3 linked regions of the Homo sapiens genome follow. The protein of the gene in region 1 interacts with the protein of each later gene in a pairwise test. Each region holds a gene or a part of one and is shown in the gene's direction. Other genes may lie near its edges. The genes, in order: LSAMP, PLB1 and STAM.

Region 1 (7,114 bases):
AGATTTGCAGTTCCAGTAGGTAACCCATCTAATATTTGAGGGTTCATGATTAACGTGAGCAACCTCCTAATCACTTATTTAGGATGTTATACTTTTTTTTCACAGTTTTTCACATGCAATATAGATCATTTAGTTCCTAGAGATGATATTTCTTCATAGTGGACACAGGAACACATTTTTTCTCTCCTTTACTTTCATTTTAATACCACACTCAATAATTCTCTTTAAATTTCCCTTTATACCTAATAACTTTAATTATTTCTTAAGAAATATTAAAATAGTTATCCATCTTTACTGTACCTATTAGATAATTAATGAATATTTTATAATTGACCTAATGCAATTTGTTAAATTAAATTCAGCTTGTTTATTCCACATTTCAGCAAGTATCTACTATGCACATGGTATTTATGCACATGGTATTTAGGCTCAGTGAGGGCTCCAGAGGTGAATTACAAGAAGGTCACTGTCTTAATAAGCTTATGAGAAAAGATGAGTGCAAATAACTCTAATGCAATGTGGAGTATGATAAGGTCATAAAAAGGAAGTTTTAAGAAGGTTACACTGACGAGAGAAGATTTTCTGAAGAGGTGGCACTTTATAGCATACGTCCATGTCCTCAGCTGCCTTCCATAAAACCCACCCAAAGCGGAAGGATATTCTCTGATCCTCTCCTCGTGGCACTAACACCCATTGTCATTAGGGTCCGGTTCTTTCTAAACCTGGGAATTATTTGCAACATCATGTGTTCCTCAAGACAACATTCTATTAAAACAACACATAACACTAACAGGTTTTTGAAATACATCTTTTTATCTTCCTGCTTTAGCCCAGGTTGATTCTAGAGATAAAATTGTTGCGGGAAGTCAGGGACCCCAAACGGAGGGACCGGCTGAAGCCATGACAGAAGAACGTGGATTGTGAAGATTTTATGGACATTTATTAGTTCCCCAAATTAATACTTTTGTAATTTCTTATGCCTGTCTTTACTGCAATCTCTAAACATAAATTGCGAAGAGTTCATGGACACTTCTCACTTCCCCAATCAATACCCTTGTGATTTCCTATGCCTGTCTTTACTTTAGTCTCTTAGTCCTGTCAGCCGAGAAGGATGTATGTCACCTCAGGACCCTGTAATAATTGCATTAACTGCACAAATTGTACAGCATGTGTGTTTGAGCAATATGAAATGTGGGCACCTTGAAAAAAGAACAGGATAACAGCAATTGTTCAGGGAATATGAGAGATAACCTTAAACTCTGGCCGCCGGTGAGCCGGGCAGAACAGAGCCATATTTCTCTTCTTTCAAAAGCAAATGGGAGAAATATCACTGAATTCTTTTTCTCAGCATGGAACGTCCCTGAGAAAGAGAATGCGCACCTGGGGGTAGGTCTCTGAACTGGCCCCCCAGGGGCGTACCTGTCTCTTATGGTCGAGATTGCAGAGGTGAGATAGTCTCCAGTCTCCCATAGCGCTCCCAGGCTTATTAGGAAGAGGAAATTCCCACCTAATAAATTTTGGTCAGACGGTTGATCTCAAAACCCCGTCTCCTGATAAGATGTTATCAATGACAATGGTGCCCGAAACTTCATTAGCAATTTTAATTTCACATCGGTCCTGTGGTCCTGTGATCTCGCCCTGCCTCCACTTGCCTTATGATATTCTATTACTCTGTTAAGTACTTGATGTCTGTCACCCACACCTATTCACACATTCCCTCCCCTTTTGAAAATCCCTAATAAAAACTTGCTGGTTTTTGTGGCTTGTGGGGCATCACGGATCCTACCAACGTGTGATGTCTCCCCTGGACACCCAGCTTTAAAATTTCTCTCTTTTGTACTCTGTCCTTTTATTTCTCAAGCCAGCCGACGCTTAGGAAAATAGAAAAGAACCTACGTGATTTTCCGGGGCAGGTCCCCCGAAACAAAATCATTAAGTATAAAGTTTAGAACTAAATTGCAGCAACATTCTAGGTAGGTGATAATTCATTATTATCATATTATAATGGCATGGCCCGAGAATTCTCATTTACTCCACAAGCCTGCCTAATGCACAGTTGAGCCAGCAGACCTCAGAGATGCAAGCCCATGATGCTTATTGGTGATTCAGTGAATGCTGGGAACCTGGGTCTGTATTTATATCAGCATTTCTTATTTCCAGATAGCCAGGTGGTCTGTCAGTACACTGTATGACTAGTTATTATCTCTTAATAAACGTAGACCTCTACAAATTGAAACTACTGATTCTGGTTTACTATATTTTCTTTTCTTTCTCTTTCTTTTTTTTTTTTTTTAGACAAGGTCTCACTCTGGCCAGGCTGGAGTGCAGTGATGTGATCATAGCTCACTGTAGCCTTGAACTCCTGAGTTCAAGTGATTTTCCTGCCTCCAGCCTCCCAAAGAGCTGGGATTACAGGCATGCGCCACCGTGCCTGGTCCTACCATTTTTTTTCATGTGTACTTTTTATGATTAAAAAAAATAGGTGCCACCTTAAATTAAGATTCTAAAATTAAGAAAATATTTAGTTCTGAAATTGCATTATTCCTTTACTCATTTTTTATTAAGAAAGTTTTAGTCACATTGTAGAAGGATTATTTTCCAGTTTATAGAGCTAATAGATTTATTTTGCAACTACTGAGTACATAAAAAGGAACCCTGAAAGATCTGGAGAAGTGGTTTCCTTTTTATTTTATTTTTATTTATTTATTTTTTTTCCATTGAGATATATTTATTTTAAACAAATTTCTCCTTGAAATGGTTTCCTTTTTAAAAACACTATACTGTATTGTGTTCTGGTGCTTGGAGTTTGGCTAACCATCTGAGTTAGGAAAAAGTATGTGTATTCTAGGCCGGGCACGGTGGCTCACGCCTGTAATCCCAGCACTTTGGGAGACCGAGGTGGGCGGATCACGAGGTCAGGAGATTGAGACCATCCTGGCTAACACGCTGAAACCCCGTCTCTGCTAAAAATACAAAAAATTAGGCGGGCGTGGTGGCAGGCGCCTGTAGTGCCAGCTACTCGGGAGGCAGAGGCAGGAGAATGGCGTGAACCTGGGAGGCAGAGCTTGCAGTGAGCTGAGATTGCACCACTGCACTCTAGCCTGGGCGACGGAGCGAGACTCCATCTCAAAAACAAAACAAAACAAAAAAAAGTATATGTGTATTCTAATATACTATTCACTTGTTTGTCAGTAAAAGACGAATTTTAAAAATAAATACGGATAAAACCCAGATCAAAAACAAGGTGCTATGTAAATTGTCATAACAAAATTTCCACATAATACATTGTTTCATTAGATGCACTTTTATGCATCTGGCAATTTTGCTGAAATGGTCAATTACTTCTTTAGGTAAGATAGAGCTGAACACCCTCAAAGAATAATTTGGAATAATGATCCGTATGACTTTAACTTTTCCATGAATGAAATTTGCTAAAATGTCAAAGGACCATAAAGACCCGACTTATAAACTTTACCTTATATTGTTAAGGAAATCTGTCCAATTTATTTGTGGGTGCTATAGGACTTGGGATGGGGACGTGGAATATAGGTTACCAAATGTCCTGTATCTGCATGTGTGACCCAGTTAGTTCACAGGACAGGCATTTATCAAATGCCTGTTTTATCCTAGATTAGTTATTGGTGGTATCCAAATGAATAAGGTAAAAATTTGCTGTTTTTATTGGATTCACAGGCCATATTTAGGTAAGCTATATTACGTGGTATTTTTTCTTTTAAAGTGAAGAGATTGGAGCCATATTTGGTGCTAAGAGGCATTCAGAATACATCTATAATGTAGCAAATCTGACCATTCTTGTGTTACGCTGTGCAGGTGAGAAACATGCACAGGGAAAAATGATAGAAGATTTAAAACACATTTACACAGGTAAATTTCTATCCTTCTTACTAGAATAGAAAAAACATGGTAAATCTACATTCAACAATTTCATAATGGTCTAGAGTAAGACACCAAACATCCTATTAATTAATTCATCAATGATTTTAAATTCAGAGATGCGGCAAACATCACCAAGAACAGAGAAATGATGCCACAAGAGAGGAGAACAGCAAAAGTAAAACTGAGTCTGGAATGAGGCAGCAAGCATTCATGAAGTTAGCTTGGTGCTCATGATAAAAGGCCTCTAAATTATTAAACACATAAATTATACTCAATAATATATGCATGGCAGAGAAGCACATACTGGGAAATGGAGATGTTAAATGATACCTAAATCTAGTTATGTTTATGAAAACAAATAGGTAAAGAAGAAAAGTAAGACCTGTGTATCTTGGCACCCAACTTATTAAGTCAAATTCTTACTCTAGGGTCAGGCATGGTGGCTCATGACTATAATCCCAGTGCTTAGGGAGGCCAAGTTGGGAAGATCACTTGAGGCTAGCCTGGACAACACAGCAAGACCCCATCTCTAATTTTTTTTTTAAATTAGCTAGTCCTGGTGGCATGCACCTATCATCCTAGCTACTTAGGAGGCTGAGGCAGGAGGATTGCTTGAGCTCAGTAGTTTGAGGCTGCAGTGAGCTATGATCAGGCCACTGCTCCCCAGTCTTGGTGACCGAACAAGATCTGTCTCAAAAAAAAAAAAAAAAATCTCCCTCTAAATAACATATACAATTCGTTTAAAATTAATAGGATAAGGAGGTCTTTGTATTATACCATAAATGGAGTATTTAAAAAGACTTAGCTGTTATCTTTCTTGTAAGAGACACAGTTGGCCTTTATATTCCATGTGGGACAGCCTATGGGTTATGCATCAATTTTCTGTCTATGTTTAGTTGTTTTGACCTGAGATAAAAACTGGATTTTACTTGGCTTAGAAAATACAGGGGAACAGGGTGTCTTAATAGTCCTGCTGTGGTGCTCGTGGCTCTTTCTGTTCATTCCCTCCTGCTCCAGAGTGTTGAGCAGCTGGCTTTGCAGCTGTGAACAGGGTTTGGGACATCTCCCTATGGGGCAGACATAAATCTTGCCACAGGGATGCAGACAGAAGGTTTTTTTGTTTTTGTTTTCTGCTAGATTTTTCCATTGCAAGACTCTTGCTGGAACTGAAGGAGAAAACCATACTCACCAAAAAGTATTTACCCCTCCTTCACTAATGCATGTTCTTTGCCCCTTTCAAATTTCAGAAAGAGACCCTTTTAAGTTTTTTAAAGCAGTAATTCAATTAAGCGTTATTCCTTTACCCTTTTTGATCTATTGGTCTATAAACTACAAAATTGGCTTCTTCATCTTTGTTAAAGATTGCCTGCATTTAGTGTGACTAGAAATGCTGGTAGCAACCTAACTTGCCACCAAACAAGCTTCTGCCTTCAGCAGCTGGAACCAAACTTATGCCAGATGATGTTTGCTTTGATTTCCTTGTCATAACACCTATCCCCTTATGCTTGGATCTGCTCACACAATTTTTACTCCTGGAAGTGGCATCCCAAACTTGTAAAGATTAGAAGTAAACTCAGAAGTCTAGTCTAATTCCTATAATGGTGGAGTATAACTTTAATCTATCATTACACAATACTATAGGAAATACTTATAAAAGAGTAAACACAGTTCAAGATGGAGTAAAAGTGCTATGATATCAATTGTATAATTCTCAAAATTACTTAAACAGACGGAGTTCTGAGTGAGTGGCCTTTTCCTAAACAAGAAGAAGATAATGGGAAGTCAATACTAATTTAACTTTGCCTTCATTACTCATACTCAGATTGTTTATTGCTGAACTGAGTCTAATATAATGACATCCATCCACTGGATGGTAATTAGATCTTAAATGAAATAGTGAAAATTCTAAGGACTCCAAGAATGGCATGGCAATAATTCATTCTGCATATAATTATTTTCCTTGTTTAGACTTGTTGAGTCTGATCACCTAGAGAAGAAACGCAGAAATAGTTGTTGTTAAGGCACTAATATTGTTACTCTGCTCTGTCAGGTGCGTTGTAGAAGACAAGAACTCAAAGGTGGCCTGGTTGAACCGTTCTGGCATCATTTTTGCTGGACATGACAAGTGGTCTCTGGACCCACGGGTTGAGCTGGAGAAACGCCATTCTCTGGAATACAGCCTCCGAATCCAGAAGGTGGATGTCTATGATGAGGGTTCCTACACTTGCTCAGTTCAGACACAGCATGAGCCCAAGACCTCCCAAGTTTACTTGATCGTACAAGGTAAGGAAAGTGTGGGATAGAAGGGTGGTAAGAAAGAGGTGGGAGTTGCAGAATAATAATGTACAAAATATTTGCAGAATCCTTCCTGAAAAGAAATATTCCCAAAGATATTATTGGACTTAAGTATCGATTTTCTGTCTAAAAAGACACTTAAAATGAGAGGACCCAAAACAATATAGAGAGTGTACTCCTGTTACTGAGAGCCAGTAACATTGGTGAGAATGTTTTCACCTAGCCCTGAGTGTGAAAACACACGGCAAAAGCCACAGCTGTTGGAACAATGTAAATCAGGGATACCAGAACACACAGAATGCCTAGGGCCATATGAAGTACACTTTTCCACCCTGTTAGGTACCAGATGCTTTGCTGAGTTTAAGAAAGTTTGGGTTTATCTGTCCTCACCCTGAAGATTAGCACTAATTATCTTTTTTGTGATAGCAAAGTTCTTCTGAAAAAATAAAATTTTCCAGAGGACTTTTTATTTTTTCAGCTGTTCAGGTTTCTATGTAGTTTGTATCTCTACTTAATGACAAGTTACTGGTGATGAAATCCAGTGACAAAGATCTGCAAAGTAATTGGGGACAATTTGCTTCTAGATTGGGGGATCTAAGGGCACATCTGAGTCATCGTTTTACAGGATAAAAACCTTAAATGGCACTCACATACCCCCAAACTGTTGCTCAATTGGGTTTCTTTCGCCATAATTGCAGAATGAGAACAAAGCTGATCAGCTGCACAATTTTATTGCAAGTGAAGCCCAACCACCAGCAGTTTCAATGTATCTATCAGGAAAGATCTAAGCACTAACAAACATTAGGGCTGTGTTCATGTATTCTTGATTTATAATTCTATGTAAATTTAATGCAAATTAGGCATGGCCCTAGGGCTCCTGTCAAGGTTCCAATGCAGTCAGTGGTGTGGAAAAGTTTAACTG
Region 2 (7,114 bases), on another chromosome or scaffold:
TTTAGATATTTTTGTTGTGTGGCAAGTGGGTTTTAAAATTTTTATTTTGAAATGTTTGTTATTGATATATAGAAATAAAGTGAATTTTGTGTTGATTTTGAACTCAACTAAACTTAAAAATTTTAATAATTTATATATTCTTTTGGGTTTTCTATTAGGTTGGTGCAAAAGTGATTGCTGTTTTTGCCATTACTTTTAATGCTGTTTAATGCTCCCACCAGAAGAGCTAATGCACATAGCGTTGTTCCAACTGACCTTTTAAAAAATAAAATAGAGAATCCAGGCTCAAGTCTGGATTAGTTCTCTATTGCTTTGTAACAAAGCAATGGCAAAATAGCACTCACTTTTGCACCAACCTAACACACATAATCCTGCCAATAATGACGGTGTTGTTACTTCCTCTTCAATCTGTGTGCCTTTATTTCTTTTTCTTATCTTACTGTGCCGGCTGGTGCCTGCACAACAGTTTTTTTTTTTTTTTTAAAGAGGTGATGATACCAAAGATGGTATTCTTATATTATTCCCAAGTTCAAAAGGAAAATGTTAAGCTGGACGTGGTGGCTCACACCTGTAATCCTAGCACTTTGGGAGGCCGAGGTGGGTGCATCACCTGAGGTCAGGAGTTTGAGACCAGCCTCACCAACATGGTGAAACCCTATCTCTACAAAAATACAAAAATTAGCCAGACGTGATGGCGGTTGCCTGTAATCCCAGCTGTTCGGGAGGTTGAGGCAGGAGAATTGCTTGAACCTGGGAGGTGGAGGTTGTAGTAAGCCGAGATTGCACCACCGTACTCCAGCCTGAGTGACAGAGCCAGACTCTGTCTCAAAAAAAAAGGAAAATGTTTAATTTCTCATCAGTAATTGTGCTGTTTGCTAATGGCTTTTTTTGTAGATAAGCTCTATGAGATTAAGAAACCTTTATTCCAAATTTGCTAAGAGATTTTTTAAAATGAGAAGTGGATGTTGAAATTCATCTAATGCTTTTTCCGTATTTATTGAGATGATTGTGTGACTTACTCCTTTTATCTGCTAATGTTGTGAATTAAATAAATTGACTTTTTATTATTTTGTTCATTTCTTCAGTCATTGCTTATTAGATTTATCAGAGACCACACGTTGCATTTATTTGCCTTGTCTCTTTAATCTCTTTTCATCAAGAATAGTTCTCTCGGCTTTTTGTTTGTTTCTTTTGTGTCAGTGAACATCTTCAGCTGGTTTTTGTGTATGAACAACAAACAGTGATGTTCATGAATCCCCTAGTTGGTGATGCCAAATTTGATAACTTGGTGAAGGTGTGGCTGCCTGACTTTTTTCCCTTGTGAAGGTACCTGCCCCATGTGGTTTATAAATTATCCATAGGGAGATACTGTGAGACTGTGTGATTACCCTTTTTCCCAGTGATTTTTAGCATCCATTGATACTTCTTGCCTAAATTTTTACCATGGTGATTGGAAGATGGTGATTTTTCTGTCATTCCTTCTTCCTTCTGCTATTGTCAGTTGGGTTTCCTCCATAAAAAAGAGATTCCCTTTTTTCCCCCACTTAAATAAATATTTAACTGAACTCCCCCCTCCTTTTTGTCTTATCTTTTTCATATGAAATTCATCTATGGGGGGCTAAGCAGGGAGGATAGCTTGAACCCAGGAGTTGGAGACCAGCTCGGGCAATATAGTGAGACCCCGTCTCCAAAAAAAAAGAAAAGAAAAGAAAAGAAATTCACTTATGGACTCTTATTAATCTGTGTGTTGTAATCCAGGCCTGTTATTTTTCATTTTGATGCCAAAGTTATTACAGATTTGGCCAGTGAGAGCCTCTTCAAGGTAACTTCTGTGGCCCTATCAATTTTTAAGCACTTTTAAACTTCATGGTACAAGATTTTCCCTGCTAACCTTGTATTTCCTCTATCCCAAACCTGGAATCAGCTGTTTCTTCAAGGCTTCCATTGGTAGGGGAGTGTTATTTAGAAACCAAGGTCCAGGTGCTAGGAATGTTTGTTGATGCTGAAGTGTTATTGTCTAGGCCCTTTCAGTGACAAAACTAAGAAATGTAGTTTTCTTTTTTAAAAACATCCAATAAATTTATAAAGTTATCTTTAATTTAGGTAGAATTACACTTTTTCATCTCCTTCTTTCATTCCATATTTGTATTGTCCTTCACCCACAGTGCAAATCTGGGTTACAGACACATCAATGAATTTACTCACTTACTGAATCCTACAATACATACAACACAGTACTGGAATTGCTATGACAACACCACCAACAACAAATGAAGTTCAAAATTCCTTTGCCATACTTCCGTCCTTTAGAATATATCCCACTCAGGGTGTATAATCAAAATATTGTGTTCAGAATCACTTGAATTTTTTTTTGTTCTTTCTGTGTAATTATATAACCTAGTGGCATACAGTTAAGTGTGTCTGTATTTAATTTTGTGTTTCTTCTGTTCTTGCTTTTTACTAAGTCTTTTCAATATATAAAACATTAACATTGTTCAAAAGTCGAAGCTATATGAAAAGATGTACTCAGAGAGGTCCCATCCCCTTCCCCTACCCTTTCTATCCCATTTCTGTCATTCCTGTAGGTAACCAATTTTATTAGTTTAATATCCTTTTTCTTTTTGAGAAAATATATTCTTATTTTCCTTTATTCTTGCACAAGATAACCTACTATACATGTTTTTTGCATTTTGATTTTTTTACTTAATTATATGTCCTGAAAATTATACTACATCAGTTCAGAGATCTTTATTTTTTTCCAACTGCAGAATATTCCAGTATGTACCATATATACCACCAGCCTCCCAACATGGCCATTAGGTTGTTTCCAATATTTTGCTATTACAAATACTACTGTCATGAACAGTCACATGCATGTATCTTTTTCAAGTTCAGCTTATGCTAGGCTATACATCTAACTTAGGATAAATTCCTGGAACTGGGATTTCTGGGTCAGAGGGTGAACACACATATAGATTTGTTAGGTATTACCAAATTTCCTTCCATAAGGATTGTACCAATTTGCATTCCTACCAGCAATATATATGAAATTGCTTATTTTTTCATAGCTTGACAATAAAGCTATATTGACAACAAAGCATGCAGTCAAGACTTAGAATTTTTGCAAATGTCATAGGTAAGAAACATTTTAGTTTATCTTATTACAATGTAATTTGATTATGTTTTCATATTTTTAAGGACCATGTGGTCTCAAGGTTACAAAAAGCAATGGGAAATGAATATTTTCCTATTCAGTTAGATGATAGCCTTTGGGAATCATACATACATACATAACATATGTATATGTGTGTGTTCATATTAAGGAAATAACCATAAATTTCTACATCCTTGAGTTTTAATTCATCAGAAATTCATATTAAATTTTGTTAAAGGCCTTTTCAGCATGTATAGAAATAATCATATGATTATTTACCCTTAGATCTATTATGTTGAGTTATATTAATAGACTTGCTAATACTGAATGATCCATTGGGATTGTATACCCATTGCTGGCGTAAAATCAAGTTGATCATGGTGTATCTCTTTCCTTATATTGCTAGGCTTAGTTTGCTAACAATTGTTTCAGGTTATTTTTCTTATATGCCCATGAATGAGAGTGAGTTATAAGTTTCTTTTTTCTCTCTGCCCTTGCTGGATTTGGGTACCAATGTTTTACAGTCTCATAAAATGAATTTGGGAGTGTTCCTATTTTTCTGTTTTCTGGAATAGTTTGTAATAATAATGGATTTTTTTTCCTTTTAATGTTTGGTAGAACTTGCCAATGAAGCCATCTGGGCCTGGAATATTATTTTTTGGTAGATTTCTGACTACTGGTTCAATTTCTTTAGCACTTATAGAATTAGTCATATTTTATTTTTCTTAAATCCACTTTGGAAAGTTTTTTTTTCTAGGAATGTGTCCATTTCGAGTAAATTTGCAAGTGGTTTGGCATAAAATTTGTGTATGGTTTTCTGTTATCCCTTCAATACCTGTAGCTTCTGTAGTCATGTCCTTTTTGTTTCTGGTACTGATTATTTATGATTTATCTTACCAGAGGTTTGTCTACTTTATTATTTTTTTCAAACCAATTTTTTATTTTTATTTTTTATTTTTTGAGAAAGGTCTAACTCTGCTGTCCAGGTTGGAGTGCAGTGGCCTGATCACAGCTCACTGCTGCCTCGACCTCTGGGCCTCAAGAGTTGCTCTCTCTCCAGGCTCCCAAGTAGCTGGGACCACAGGTGCATACTACCACACCTGTTAATTAAAAAAAAAAAATTTGTAGGGAGGGAGTCTCACTATCTTTCCCAGGCTGGTCTTGAACTCCTAGGCTCAAGCTATCATCCAACAGCCTCTCAAAGTGTTGGGATTACAGGCATGAGCCACCATATCTGGCTTTTATTGATCTTCTATGTCACCGTTCTCTATTGAGGCATAGCAAACTACCCCCAAATCTCAGTGACTTACAGTAGCAACCACTTCATTTACTCACAGTTCTGTGAACCTGCAGCTTGGGAAGACTTCAGCAGAAACATCTCATCCCTGTTCCACATAGTATCATCTGGGATTGACTTGGTGGGTCCCAAATGAGATGTCTGGGGACTTGGTACTGGGACCTGGGTGTCTTCGTGTTCCCCTCCTTGGCCTTTGTTTCTGTATGCGCAGTCTGGACTTCTTTACATGGGGACCCAAGGTCCCAAAAGAGCACAAATAGAAGCCACAAAGCCTTCTAATGTCCGGTCCCCAAAGTCATTTCTGCTGCTTCTATGAGTCAATGCAAGTTTCTGTAGTAGCCTGGATTCAAGGTGAAGGAAATAGACGTTGCCTCTTGATGGGAAGAATGGCAAAAGTCACACTGCAAAAGGGCATACAGGATGAGACGAAATGCTGTGGCCATCTTTGGAAAAATATACCATCGTCTATATTGTATGTTTGTTTTCCAGTTCATTCATTTATGTAAATTTATCTTGCTTGGCCTTTTTAGCACATCCTGAATCTGTGGCTTGATTACTTCCATCAGTTTTGAAAAATTCTCAACCAGTATCTCTTGAAATGTTGCCTCTACTTGATTATTTCTGCCTTTTCCTTCTGGAATGCCAGCACAACGTTTGGCCTGCTCACTCCATGTACCATGTCTCTTCACCTCTCTACCAACTTTACCATCTTCTTGTCTTTCTACACTGCATTCTAAGTAATTTATTATGATACATCTTCTAGCTTATTCAGTCTCCTTCAGTTGCGTCTAATTTTCTGTTAAACCTGATCGTTGAAGATTTTGAAAATTGGTGATTTTATTTTTCAAATTTAACTTACATTTGGTTTCTTACCAAATTGGTAATTAAATAACTTTGGATTCCCATAAAAACTTCAAGTTTGTCTTATTTTAAAAAACATAGTCATTGTAAGGGCCAGGCGCAGTGGCTCACGTCTGTTATCCCAGCACTTTGGGAGGCTGAGGCAGGCAGATCACTTGAGGTCAGGAGTTCGAGACCAGCCTGGCCAACATGGTGAAACCCCATCTCTACTGAAAATACAAAAATTAGCTGGGTATGGTGGTGTGTGCCTGTAGTCCCGATACTCAGGAGGTTGAGGCAGGAGAATTACTTGAACCTGGGAGGTGGAGGTTGCAGTGAGCCGAGATTGGGCCACTACATTCCAGCCTGGGCAACAGAGCGAGACTCAGTCTCAAAAAAACAAAACAACAACAACAACAACAAAAATTCATTTTGAAATTTTACAATTTTGATGATTTTAGTATCCAAAGTCTTTGTGATCTGTTTCTTTTGTTCTCCTGCTGATTCTTGCTTATATGTACCTAATTTCTTTATGTACTATACCTGGTTATCTTTTATTGCATGGTGCTCAGACTCCTTGAAAATGTACTTATGAGATTCTTTGAGGCCTAGGATGAAGGTGAATGTCTTCAGAGAAGATATAAGTGTTCATTCTATTGGGCACTGGGGATGTTATCACATTTGAGGATCACTTCAAACTAAATTCATGGTGTGAGGCTCCCTAGAAAAACCAGGCTCTATGATAAGCACAGTTCATGTATAACAGCCTTCCTTTAAGATGGTCTGTGCTATTTTTCCCATTTTACAGATGAGAAAACTGAGAAGCTAGGTAACTTATCCAAAATCATCCAGCTAATTAGTACAGGAAGCTGAGGTCAGTCCTGAGCTTGGATCCAGGGCCAGCACCTTTCGCTACCTTACAGTATAATAGAGCTCGAGAGAAGAACCAAAATTAGACTTTTATTTAAACTTTTAAATGGACTCAACAAGCAATACATATGAAAACAGATTCCTGCTTTGAATGTTTTGGCTTATAAAACTGAAATATCATTAACTCAACTGCAGTCGGCAAAAGCAAGTTGGCAAGAAATCATTGTATCTAATAAATTACCATTTCTGCTAGAATTTTATTTTCCTCGAATGGGTCAGAAGTTCCCAGAAGATTGTCATGCCTGTGGGAAAAACTTGTTGCCTTGGTAACGTACCCATGACAGGCCTGTCAATGCAAAACCAACGGTGGGAGCTGGGTGAACTCATTGAGTGAGAAAAGGATACCTTTTCATTACTAAAACAAGCTAGGTAACATTTGTTTTGCAAGAGCCCAGGGTTCTTCCTGAAGGTTGGCTTTCCTTCCCTTCCTGCAGGAAGTTTTCCCAAGCCTTCTAGAAATACAGTCTTTCTAAATAAGAGTAGAAAGGGATATTTGAGAACTTTTGGTGGCCTGAGTCCTTCAAATTATTGATGCAAGATCAGGGAGAACCTGCTTGGGTCACACACCTAGTTGGTGGCATAGCCATCCCCGAATCTCTGGTGTTAGACTCTACATCCCAATGCCTCCATCCCCATCCCCAACCCTCACTTCACCTCACACACTTGTCTCCAAATGTCTGCTTTGGACACTGAGCACAGGTATGGGGTTTTCTCTAGAGGCTCAGAAGTTCTACTTTCCTGGGATGTCATCTGTGCCTTGTAGATTTCTAGGACTTTATTGTCAATCATCATTTCCATCAAGTTGCATTTTTGTTACTGTCAGTTAACTGAGCACCCTTCTAAAAACCCAAGTTGGGCTGTGCCTGGCTGGTAGTTACTAAATCAAATGTTAA
Region 3 (7,114 bases), on another chromosome or scaffold:
AGCAGACTAATCATCTATGTAGAAACCCTACTTCTTTGACACTAAATAATTTTAAATATTGTATAGTATTCTGTAAGCAAACAAAACGGAAACCATCTGTGTGTTAATGGACTCTCACTTTCATTTGACCTTTTTTTGTGTGTGGTAGGCAAACTTTCTTGACATGTGCTTTTGTTTTTTAAGACTGCTTAAAATGAAAATTGTGAATAATTTACATTGAAAATTGGTATCCATTTCAAAAAAACAGAATTATTTTGACTTGGGAAGAGTTTTTTTTTTTTTTAGCATACTTATGTCACTTTCACTCTCTGATGATTAATTCGTTTCTCAAGCTATTTTCCTTTTACACAGAACATAGTTTTTAAATTTTAAATAATTACTTTGCTTAGGATTAGTAGTCTTTATTTGCCCTGCGTACCTATATATAGTAGCATAACCATGTAAAAACCATGCATGGAGAAAGGTTTGTAATTATTTTAGTAGTGGTCATGGTAAAGTAGATCTGTTTGGATTTTTTAAAAAACATAAATACATATATACTTATATATCGTATAGATGTGTGTATGTAATAATGGTTTCATTCATTCCATTGGTCTGTACAACAAAAGATTCTGAAATAGATCTGTGTCACTGGTTTGAGGTACCTTCCAGCCTCTCCCAAATAGGAAAATAGAGAAACCACTAGTCTTCCTCCTTCCTTTTATGACCAACTGAAACACTGGTAGAAAGAAAATGTGGAATAAACCCTAAGAGTCCCACTTAGAAGAGCAGCTGTGATACAGCTGAGCTCTGCCTTACTGAAACAGCTGCTGTATTCACCATGGGCAAGTAGGAATGACAAGTTGTTAGTCATAAGCAATGCCATCTTGAGATGGATAGTACACTTGTTGGCATGGCTAAGCTAAAGCTGCTCCGAAACAAAGCAAAATCCTCTGGCATGACATAAGAGGTGGAAGAACTCACGCATTGTAAGTTTAAATGTGGCTTGATTTCTTCTCGCTTAAGAGAATCTCTGTTAGCAGTTGGTTGGTTGGTTTATTTATTTATTTAAACAGGGTCTTGCACTGTTGTCCAGACTGAAGTGCAGTGGCGAGATCATAGCTCACTGCAGCCTTGACCTCCTGGGCTCAAGTGATTCTCCCACCTCAGCCTCCTGAGCAGTTTCAAAAATATATAGGAAGTACTTTCAAGGCTCTGACTTCATGCAGTACTAGAGAGAATAAATACATGGGACACTGACAACATAAAAGCAAAATTGGAGTCTCCATAACTATGAATTTCAAAAGTTTGTCTAGTTGATAATAAAGTGAAAACATAAAGTTGCCTAAAGGTTGGTAGCTTTTTATATTAACTACTTAATTCCTGTAGGATAAAATGGACCAGTTGCTACAGATGCTGCAAAGTACAGACCCCAGTGATGATCAGCCAGACCTACCAGAGCTGCTTCATCTTGAAGGTAAAACTTTTCTATTTACCTTGCAAATAAAGAGTAGTTAGAGGTTAATAACTGGTGTCCTGTTAAAGAATGGGTTTTGAGGATAATATTAAAAATGGAACATTTCTCACTTCTCCTTGACCCAGGCTCACTCTCATATGCAGTTGAAACCTTGGGTAGAATTTGAATTCTTATAATTTTCTATCCAAACGAAGTGTTCTGTTCAACATTTTAGAACCTGGTAAAATGAAAAATGGCACTTTAAGATTTTCAGATTAATATTTTAGATTAAGTTGTCACCATTATACTTTAAGAAAATCAATTTTGGGTTCTGTAGACTAAGGTTAAAGAATGTATATTTTTATTACTCCAAATTAAATCTTTTATTCCTTAAATTATACAAATATCTATCAAAGGTTCACATTTTTTTTTCTTGTACTTTCTTATATTTCTTCACATCTTGTCATTTTAGCAATGTGTCACCAGATGGGACCTCTCATTGATGAAAAGCTGGAAGATATTGATAGGTAAAAGAACATGGGTGCATTTATGTTGTGTACCTTCTTTCCTGAAGCTATCACTGTACTGCAAAGTGGGCTATAACTGCCTTTTAAAAAAAAAATATTGTGGAGGAACCAACTCTCATTCACATATCTTGTGCTAGATGTGGAGAATTAGACTCATTTGTCCTTTTTTTTAAAGTGAGGATTTGATCGACCTTTGCAATATAGTCAAAAGGACCAGCGTAGATAGGTCGTTTTAAAAACAAGGGCTAGCTATGTAATTCTCTTTGCTGAAGTGGCATTACCAGAGCTCACAAATGACCCATATGTTAGTAACTAGGGAAACCAAGATATTTCTGGTACAGTCAGGTACGATAAGACGGAGTTCCCTTAGCACAGCACGTAAACCTTAAACAGTTTGGGTTGCTTCAGGGCTAAAATGCAGGATATTTTTGTTATAAGTGAAATTTTTAATAATGTCTACTAGTACTACTTTTTGCCATTTTTGATATTTTGATGTATCATTATTTAGAGCATTATATCATTTTAGTAACAGCTATGCTTCAAATTATTGTGTCATGTTTCAGAAAACATTCAGAACTCTCAGAACTTAATGTGAAAGTGATGGAGGCCCTTTCCTTATATACCAAGTTAATGAACGAAGATCCGATGTATTCCATGTATGCAAAGTTACAGAATCAGCCATATTATATGCAGTCATCTGGTGTTTCTGGTTCTCAGGTAAGCTTTTAGAAGCCCATGTTGTTTTAAATTCTCAAATGCACAGTGAGGTGTGGTAGCTCATGCCTGTAATCTCAGCAATTTGGGAGGCCAAGGCAAGAGGATTGCTTGAGACCAGGAGTTTAAGACCAGCCTGGGTAACATAGTGAGACTCTGTCTCTACCAAAAAAAAAAAAAAAAATTAGCCAGGCTGGGGCATGTTCCTTGGTCCCTGCTCTCGAAAAGCTGAGGTGGGAGGATAGCTTGAGCCCAGAAGGTCGAGGCTGCAGTGAGCCGTGTTCACACCACTGCAGTCTAGCCTGGGCAACAGCGACACCCTGTCTCTAAAATAAATAAATAAATAAATAAATTCTCAAATGCATTTGAGATTATTTGGAATAGCTGTTTGAAACTTTCTAAAACTAATGTTTAAAATTAAAATAAAGTTTAACGGAATTTTTTTACTTGGCAGTTACAGCATATAATATACTAATTATGCTAATAGTTTTTTGTTGTTGTTGTTGTTTAAAGGAAATAGCTTTTATACAGGGTTATGCAGCAGAATCAGCCATCACACTTTTGAAAAAAATTACAGATATATCCATCCCACTCCAGACCTATTGAATCAGAATCCTCAGGGTTGAGGCCCTTTTTTTTTTTTTTTTTTTTTTTTTTTGAGGCGGAGTCTCACTCCGTGGCCCAGGCTGGAGTGCAGTGCTGCAATCTCAGCTCACTGCAAGCTCCGCCTTCCGGGTTCTCGCCATTCTCCTGCCTCAGCCTCCTGAGTAGCTGGGACTACAGGCGCCCGTCACCACGCCAGGCTAATTTTTTTGTATTTTTAGTAGAGACGGGGTTTCGCCGTGTTAGCCAGGTTGGCCTTGATCTCCTGACCTCGTGATCCACCCGCCTCGGCCTCCCAAAGTGCTGGGATTCCAGGTGTGAGCCATCGCGCCCGGCCGAGGCCCATATTTTTAAAGCTTCGTATGTAATTATTTACTTAAGAACCTTAGTTCTTCATCAGGTTGTGTACACTCAATATGTATAGCCTTTTGCAGGTCAGACATATCTCAATAAAGTAGTTTCGTAAAAAACACAAAATGCTTTTAGAGCTAAGAAAACTCTCTTAAATATCTAATGAACTTCTAGTTATCCTTAAAAGGAAAACTTAAATGCAGTGAAAAAAAAATGAGGTAAAAACCTGTTTTTATTATTACAAACCAACAAAATATATTTCCATAATTTAAAAACTGCTTTAATCTGGAATTTTCCCTGCTTTACATGAGAATGCATGCAATGCAGTGTAGAGCCGTTTGCTTTCTTTTCACCCCAAGCAACTATTTCAAGGACCCCCTTTTCACAAACTCATCACGGTGAGGTGAGGTTATAGGGAATAACTAGCCAGATACTGGCCGGGTGCGGTGGCTCATACCTGTAATCCCAGCACGTTGGGAGGCCGAGGCGGGTGGATCACGAGGTCAGGAGATGGAGACCATCCTGGCTAACATGGTGAAACCCTGTCTCTGCTCAAAATACAAAAAATTTAGCCTGGCGTGGTGGTGGGTGCCTATAGTCCCAGCTACTTGGGAGGCTGAGGCAGGAGAATGGCATGAACCCGGGAGGCGGAGGTTGCAGTGAGCCGAGATCGTGCCATTGCACTCCAGCCTGGGCGACAGAGCAAGACTCCACCTCAAAAAATAATAATAATAATAATAATAAATAAAAACAAAACTAGCCAGATACTCCATTTTTTCCATGTAAAGTGGGCACGGACTGTGTTCAGATTAACGTTTAGCAGAATGAGGGGCCAGCACCCTGTAGATGAACAGCTAGGCCCAAGAAACTTGGGGCTAGAGGGCACCTGCTTTAGAGTCTTGATCACCAGTTTGAGACAAGGAAGCAAAAAACCTTCATGTTCAATTTTCGAAGAATGACAAAATAAAGTTAGGAGGACTGGTATAGCTGTGTTTATAATGAAGACCCTTTGGATCCCTGTGTGGGTCTGTCGTTTAACAGAAGTGCTAAATGGAAGGATCTAATGAATACTGCAGAAAATTAGGACATTATGTGTTTTAGACTTTGGGTAGTTAAGACTTCAATCTCTTTAGATTAAAAAAATGCATTTTGAAATACAGAAGTAGACAAATCCAGCCTGTTGCCTGTTTTTTTTTTTTTTAATAAACTTTTTTTTGAGACGGAGTCTTGCTTTGTCGCCCAGGCTGGAGTGCAGTGGCGCGATCTCAGCTCGCTGCCAGCTCCGCCTCCTGGGTTCAGGCCATTCTCCTGCCTCAGCCTCCCGAGTAGCTGGGACTGCAGGCGCCCGCCACCACGCCTGGCTAATTTTTTGTATTTTTAGTAGAGACGGGGTTTCACTGTGTTAGCCAGGATGGTCTCGATCTCCTGACCTCGTGATCTGCCTGCCTCGGCCTCCCAAAGTGCTGGGATTACAGGCATGAGCCACCATGCCTGGCGGCTTTAAATAAACTTTTATCAGAACACAGCCACTCTGATTTACTGACAGAGCCGAGTAGTTGTGTCAGAGACTACATGGTCCACAAAACTTAAAATATTTACGTCAGGCCCTTTACAAAAAAGTTTGCTGACCCCTGCTTTAGAAAGTTAGCTTGCTCTATTGTTCAATAAACTGCAGTTTAGGAAATGTGACTTGTATCCATTGCAGTCTATGGCTACAAAACAATGAGTTCAAATACACTTTCTAAATATCCTTTGGGATTCCTTAAAAAATACCAACATGCAGAATATTAAAATATATTTAATGTAAAGGGAGATTAGTATAAAGTTTCAGGATAAGTTTCTTTAATGCTTCAGTATGGAGATAACATGAGTTTAGCATATGTTTAACTAAAAATGAAAACCATCAACAGCCTATTTCATTGAAAAGCGTTTTTCAAAATGCCCGTTGACAGAAATAACTTTGAAAAAAGGATTCCAGAGTGGTGATTTTTCTTGTTTTTGTAACTGAATACCTCTACAGAGAAAGTTCAGTATGCTTATTAAAATTTTAGAATTGAATATGATTTCTCTTTAACCATCGCAGGTGTATGCAGGGCCTCCTCCAAGTGGTGCCTACCTGGTTGCAGGGAACGCGCAGATGAGCCACCTCCAGAGCTACAGTCTTCCCCCGGAGCAGCTGTCTTCTCTCAGCCAGGCAGTGGTCCCACCATCCGCAAACCCAGCCCTTCCTAGTCAGCAGACTCAGGCCGCTTACCCAAAGTAATTTTACTGTTGATTCTTGTTTGGAGTTAGTGCTGTTACAGCTGTTTAAGTGCCCCCAGTTATCTATAACTATAAAATCTGGCTAATAAATATCTGTGGTCAGCGTCATGCGGCCGCCCCATTTGTGCTAATGAGTGGTGGAGCCTCTGTGGTATTCCAGTACCAGCCAGCAAGCTGGTCCTCTGCTCCCGACTCGCTCAACTCATGTAATCTGGTTTCAGCCTTATATTTTTAATACTACTCTAACCATAAGTTTTTATTGTTGTTTTTATTTGCATCTATGATATTTGATAATGTCTTTAATGAAATTTATGTTTAGTGACTATAATTTGTCATTTTTCCACACATTTTGTATAAAATCTAAATTCCGTTATTTTAAAATATATAGTTCTGAGCTGTCTCTTTAAGACAAATATTTTCTTATTTTTGCCCTGTTTTGGAATTTAGTTTATATTATATCAAGGTACCCCATTTGAAACAAGAAGATAATAAGAAGGTAAGCACCCTTGTTTCTCAGGAGGCAGATGGCTGAATATGTGATGACAGAGGCCCATTTACTTTGCCATTTACTTACAGTGCTGTCTGTCATGTAGTTAAATGATTATTGTGTGTTTTTTCTGCTTTAATGGGACTCTGAGCTGAAATCTTTTCCTTGAAGCAAATAAAGGATAGGCTTTTAAGAGTTTACCAACGTGTATTCTAGAAGTTACGACATTCTAGCTGGCAACAGAAGTTTCTAGGTAGCACAGGCACAACTTCTAGAAACCTTTCCAGCAGTGTTAGGATTGCCCAGGAATGCTCCTGCACTGCCCTCTCTTGCACTACTCATCCTCAAAGAGTTACGTGTTAGAGATGCTTGGGGATTTTCAAGCATTATTCGGTTGTCAGATCTAGTATCCCGAAGTGACCTTAAGGGGGATGATGGCAAGGCCCACATGTCAGAAAACAGGGCATTCCCTAGTGGGTTCTGTATCTTAGAAAAAAGTGTTAAGTGTAGCTTGCACTCTTGCAGGATTTTTTTTTAAGTTGAAATCTGGTGGAAATGAATACCCTTCTGGAAAATAAACAGCTGTTCTTAGAGTAGCATGTTGCTTTACAACTAGATACAAAGGGGCTAGAAGGTAGGAATTGTTGAGAAGACACTAGGGTTCCTGACTTAATAGGACCCTGCAGCTATTTTAGTATTAGCCGGAACTGCCACTTTTCCCCTGCTAGTCCTCTG

Evidence for each region.
Region 2: the proteins of LSAMP (region 1) and PLB1 interact in binary tests that used the Homo sapiens proteins (3 or more experiments, as listed by UniProt).
Region 3: the proteins of LSAMP (region 1) and STAM interact in binary tests that used the Homo sapiens proteins (3 or more experiments, as listed by UniProt).

What each region holds. Positions count from the first base shown.
Region 1 is NC_000003.12:116,085,390-116,092,503, reverse strand, and holds part of LSAMP (limbic system-associated membrane protein isoform 1 preproprotein), read left to right. Parts: intron 1-5,947; coding exon 5,948-6,180; intron 6,181-7,114.
Region 2 is NC_000002.12:28,499,058-28,506,171, forward strand, and holds part of PLB1 (phospholipase B1, membrane-associated isoform 1 precursor), read left to right. Parts: intron 1-7,114. UniProt on the Homo sapiens protein: Calcium-independent membrane-associated phospholipase that catalyzes complete diacylation of phospholipids by hydrolyzing both sn-1 and sn-2 fatty acyl chains attached to the glycerol backbone (phospholipase B activity).
Region 3 is NC_000010.11:17,703,063-17,710,176, forward strand, and holds part of STAM (signal transducing adapter molecule 1), read left to right. Parts: intron 1-1,368; coding exon 1,369-1,456; intron 1,457-1,907; coding exon 1,908-1,962; intron 1,963-2,525; coding exon 2,526-2,679; intron 2,680-5,713; coding exon 5,714-5,889; intron 5,890-7,114. UniProt on the Homo sapiens protein: Involved in intracellular signal transduction mediated by cytokines and growth factors. Upon IL-2 and GM-CSL stimulation, it plays a role in signaling leading to DNA synthesis and MYC induction. May also play a role in T-cell development.